Regions from separate parts of the Homo sapiens genome. Here region 2 is linked to region 1. Evidence: fine-mapped expression QTL. A gene starts in region 1. The other region holds a variant in brackets. All regions are shown on one strand. Distances are between the middles of the regions. Region 1 holds the start of PIK3R4 (phosphoinositide-3-kinase regulatory subunit 4). Region 2 overlaps PIK3R4 (phosphoinositide-3-kinase regulatory subunit 4).

The links. PIP is the estimated chance that this variant, and not a neighbour inherited with it, causes the effect.
Region 2: its variant is fine-mapped to the expression of PIK3R4 in NK cells (Schmiedel 2018, PIP 0.95).

Annotation. Positions count from the first base shown.
Region 1 is chr3:130,745,530-130,748,557 of GRCh38, forward strand. PIK3R4 (phosphoinositide-3-kinase regulatory subunit 4) reads right to left here and starts at 1,300. Exons shown (of 20, transcript NM_014602.3): 1 at 789-1,300. RefSeq lists an enhancer at 981-1,040 and a silencer at 2,275-2,324.
Region 2 is chr3:130,724,174-130,726,673 of GRCh38, forward strand. The region is part of intron 6 of PIK3R4 (phosphoinositide-3-kinase regulatory subunit 4); the gene reads right to left. Among named protein-coding and RNA genes, the nearest start is that of PIK3R4, 21 kb to the right of the region's middle. The variant GA/G (reference allele first, on the strand shown) is at 1,412.

The DNA of each region.
Region 1 (3,028 bases):
ATATTTAGATAGGCCTCTTCAACTTTAAGCCAAAAATGTTAGTTTGTGTTATTTTCTCATATTTAAATTTAAAATATTAATGAGCCTTTACTATGTGTTCCGTGCTGTGCTTGGGGCTATGAGAATTACAAAGTTACCATATGACATAGTTCTTGTCCAAGAATCTGTAGTTTCTTGGAAATAAGAAAGAGACACATTAAAAGCTTAAAACTGGCCGGGCGCGGTGGCTCACGCCTGTAATCCCAGCACTTCGGGAGGCCGAGGCGGGAGGATCACGAGGTCAGGAGCTCAAGACGGGGCTGGCCAACATGGTTAAAATCCCGTCTCTACTAAAAATACAAAAATTAGCCGGGCGTGGTAGTGGGTGCCTGTAATCCCAGCTACTCGTGAGGCTGACGCAGAATTGCTTGAACCCAGGACGCAGAGGTTGCAGTGAGTGGAGATCCCGCCACCGCACTCCAGCCTGGGTGACAGAGCGAGACTCCGTCCGTCTCAAAAAATAAAAAAAAAAAAAGAAAAACTGAAAACTGAAAAGGTCAAACTAAGATCTAAAAATTCAGTTAACTCCTGGACACTTCCTGCCTAATTCCAGTGTGCCCTCTCACCCAGCTAAAAGAAGGTGCAAACTTCGCTGGTCTGCAACAAGAAACCTTGCCACAGATGTTAAAGAAAAGCAGACCAAAGTATACACTAGCTAAACGTACCCCAGGGTTCTGCTAACTCAGGTTTTGCAGGAAATAAATGCCACACATATACACACACGACCTTGAGCACACATAAACATTTACCCTAGGCCTCGGGAAAGTGTCAAAATCGTTCAGAGGCTCACAACGAGGTCATAGTAGACTACTTCGGGGACGGGACGGGAAAACGCGTCAGCAGCGGGGAAGTTGTTTCTACGAAGGGTCTTTCTTCATAGACAGGAGATGGGCTGTTGGTGGAGGGGCGCAGAAAAGTCCCGATCTTCAGGAACCCCGGTGGTCCTGGGAGGAGAACTGGGAAAGCTCTCGGGGTCTCAGCAGAGAGAAGAAGCCACGCTAAAGAGTCTCCACAAGTACCCCGGGATTTGACCCCTCCAGCCCCCTAACCTGCCCTGGGGGACATGCGTTCCCGGGCCTCGTCTTCCTCTAGCGCGGATCGCTACACCCGTCCGAGCCCTCCTCGAGGGCCTCACCACCGGGCGGGGGGAGATGGAACCCGGGAGAGAAGTGCAGACCGCCAGTCCCAAGAAAACACTACACTTCAGCTGCTGCAGCCCCAGCAAACGCCGAACTCCCGGGAAAGCAACCGGTCTGACCTCACTTCCTGTCGCCGAGCGGAAGTGACGAAAAAGAGTGAGCCTTGAGGAATTGCCAGGGTAGGAAACCGGTTGCTAGGAAACTAGGGAAGGCGTGGTCTTACTTTGGGCGAGTCTACAGGGAGAAAATGATGCTCTGACAAAGATCTATTCCCCTTCCTGCTCTTCTACCTTTCATTCACGAACGCTGAGGTTTCTGACATCCCCTAGAATCTGCTCAGACACGCCTTCACTCCCAGGACAGCAGAACAGAGTTAAGAGAACTCAAGAATATTTAGGAAAACTAATATATCCCAAGCTGGATTTTTAGAGTTCTGGTGAGATATAACTTACATACCATAAAGTTCACCTGCTTAAAATGTACAAAGCAGTAGTTTTTAATACATCTATCGAGTTGTGCAATCATCCCTATAATCTGATTTTAATTTTTTTTTTTTTTTTTTTTTTTTTTTTTTTTTTTTTTTTTTTTTTTGAGGCTGAGTCTCGTTCTGTCGCCCAGGCTGGAGTGCAGTGGAGCGATCTCGGCTTACTGCAACCTCCACCTCCCGGGTTCAAGCGATTCTCCTGCCTCAGCCTCCCGAGTAGCTGAGACTACAGGCGCCCGCCACCACGCCCGGCTAATTTTTTTGTATTTTTAGTAGAGGCGGGGTTTCACCGTGTTAGCCAGGTTGGTCTCGATCTCCTGACCTCGTGATCCGCCTGCCTCAGCCTCCCAAAGTGTTGGGATTACAGGCGTGAGCCGCCGCGCCCGGCCTTTTTTTTTTTCTTTTGGAGACAGTCTGGCTCTGTCACCCAGGCTGGAATGCAGTGGTGCCATCTCGGCTTACTGCAAACTCCACCTCCCGGGTTCAAGCGATTCTCATGCCTCTGCCTCCAGAGTAGCTGGGACCACAGGCACGTGCCACCACGCCCAGCTAGGTTTTTGTTTTTTTTTTTTTTGAGACGGAGTCTCGCTCTTGTCGCCCAGGCTGGAGTGCAGTGGCGCGATCTCGGCTCACTGCAAGCTCCGCCTCCCGGGTTCACGCCATTCTTCTGCCTCAGCCTCCCGAGTAGCTAGGACTATAGGCGCCCGCCACCGCGCCGGGCTAATTTTTTGTATTTTTTTTTTAGTAGAGACGGGGTTTCGCCGTGGTCTCGATCTCCTGACCTCGTGATCCACCCGGCCTCTCAAAGTGCTGGGATTACAGGCGTGAGCCACCGCGCCCGGCCGCTAGTTTTTGTATTGTTTGTAGAGATGGGGTTTCACCATGTTGGCCAGGATGGTCTGGATCTCCTGACCTCAAGTGATCCGCCGCCTCGACCTCCCAAAGTGCTGGGATTACAGGTATGAGCCACCGCGCCCAGCCTGCCTGATTTTAAACATTTTCATTACCCCAAAAGGAAACCCTGAAACCATTCGGAGTCACTCCCTGTTCTCCCCCATTTCTCCTCCCCCTTCCAGCCCTAGGCAATCATTAATCTACTTTCTGTTTGTATACACTTGCCTTTTCTGGACATTTTATATATAATATGTGGTCTTTGTGACTGACTTTCACTTTGGGTAATGTTTTTGAGGATTATCCCTATTGTAGCTTGTATTAGTACTTCATTTATTTGTTGTTGCAAATAATTTTGTTTACCCTTTTGTTAGTTAATAGACATTTGAGTTGTTTTACTTTTACGTTATTATGAATAATGTTCCTATGTTCATAGCATTAGTCTATAAGTCTTTGTGTTGCCATATGTTTTCAT
Region 2 (2,500 bases), 22 kb before region 1:
AAATTAATAAGAAAGAAGCTAGCTATTACGGATATGGTGACAATTTATTACTTTTCTTTCTAAAAGGAAAACAAAGAAATCTAAAATTCCTGAAATTGCTCAAGAAAATCACAGTCCAAATATGAAATTAAAATAAATAGTGTATTTAGTAACTAGAAGAGGGAGTAAAGTAGAATCCACTGGCCTTGCTATAAACATACTCAAATGGTGAGGGGGAGAGTCACTGAATTGGGATTGTGATGAAGCAAATATAATTACAGTATATTACTTGGCTCCACAGTCAATAAAATTTACACATTCATAATCATGTATTTTGTTTTGAAGCTTCATAATCAGTCTATACATAAAAGACTTCATTGTGTTATAGAACAGAATGTATTATTAACTATGACAAAAAAATTGTTGAGAATTCTCAATTCTCAACTAACCAAACAATAAAAAAGAGAGACACAGGTAAAGAGAAAGAAAAGGGGCACTAATCTTGTACTGCAAATCAGAGGTGGAGCACACAAAATAGATTTAATTACTTAAAGTTATTAAAACAACAAACCAAAAACTAAAGCACAGAAAATAGTAGTCAACATCTCAAAAACTGAAAAGAGAAGAAGGATCAAGGCATGTTATGAGTGAATTAAATCTTCATCTGGCACAGAAAAAAATTCAAGAGATAAAGTCCAAAGTTGGTTATTCTAAAAATAGTAATATGAAAATATTATTTAGAGATATGGTAATAATCACCTGAAAACACTAAAATAAAAGCAGAAAGCTGAGTAGTTGCCTCTGGAAATTTCAACTATTGTTTTTCATACATTATACATTTTGATTAAATTTTAAATAATTTCTAAAAGCCTATTTCCTTTATGATTAAAAAATTATGTTATAATTGTTTTCTTTAATAAAAGGAAAAATTCTATCTAAAATTCCAGTGAATTATATTTAGGAACTTTACAAACTGAAATGTACAATGAGCTAAAATAGCTAAAACTATTTTGAAAATGAATGACATCTGAAACTTACCCTATCAGATGATAAAGGTGATTAAAAATATATAATAATGTAAATTGAATATGGCTATGAATATGAGTACAAGAAGAGAAAAATCAATGGAACAGACTAGATAGCCAGAAAACTGACCTTAACAGACAGAAGCATGCAACAGATGATAAAACAGTAAGAAACAAACCAGTAAGAAAAAAAACAAAAAAAATGCTTAATAAATTATGCTGGAAAATCAGTTACATATCTGAGAAGAAAAAGAAAATTTAGTTTTCATCCCACATCACAGACCAAAAATAAAGATCAATTAAACAGTTAAGTGTAAAAACTAAAGCATGAAAAAGAAAAAAAGACAAGCACACAACAGATTATTAATCTAATTCTGGAATGGGAAGAGACTTTACATACAAAAGTA[GA/G]AAAAAAAAAATCACAAAGCAAAAAGATCGAGTAAACTGACTTCAGAAAAACTGTCTACAGAAAAGATTCAAAAATCAAGTTAAAGAACTAAGAAACGTGAGCTTAAAATTGATTTAAAAAATTAATGTTCTTAATATGTATATAAAGGCTCGAAAAGAACAAGAAAAGCATAAGTATCAGAAAAAAATAAGCCAAAATAATGAATTTTAAAATTCATAGAATTAGAAATATGAATGCATAATCAACATGAAAAAGTTTTTCAACTTGATAGTTAAGCTAAGAAATATATATCAAAACAAGTTATCATTTTACCCTTCCAACAGGCAAGGACTAAGTAAAGCCTATTTCACACTGGATGGGTGTGCAGCACTTAACGGAGATGGGGATGCAAAATGATATCATCTTTTTGAATAGCTTATAAATGTGTCATGAGTTTTAAAAATAAATTCACATTCTTTAACACAGTAATTAAAATTTTTTTACTTCTATCCTAAGAAAATAATCAGAAACAACTACTTACATACATACGTTGCATATTTATACCAAATATATAGATTATCTATATATGACAGAAAAAAATGAAAATAATTTAAATATCCAAAAGGGTTAAATTTTTGCAAAACTATATAAAGGAATAGTTTAGACCTATCAAATTATGATTTCAAATAAATTTTTAATGATATGAGAAAATGCTTAAAGTATGTTATTAGAAAAAGTTTAAGAAATAATAAAATTTGGAAGTAATATAATATATACATAGCACTTACGCCAGGCACTATTACATATATTAATTCATTCTATCCCCCAACAACCAGTAAGACAGGCACTATTCTTATTTCCATTTTACAGATAGGTAAACTAAGCCACAAAAAAATTAAATGATTTTCCAAGAACCACAACTAGTGACAAAGTGAACACCTGAACCCAACAGTATAGCTCCACAATGCCTGCTCTTAACGATCAGCATATGACAGAAAGGGATAAATGGGATGGAAAGAGAAGAGGAATAGCTATGGGAAAAAACATCAAAGCTTTAACAGACATTGTACATGGGTTGTAGGATTAATGGTCATTTATTTTCTTCTGG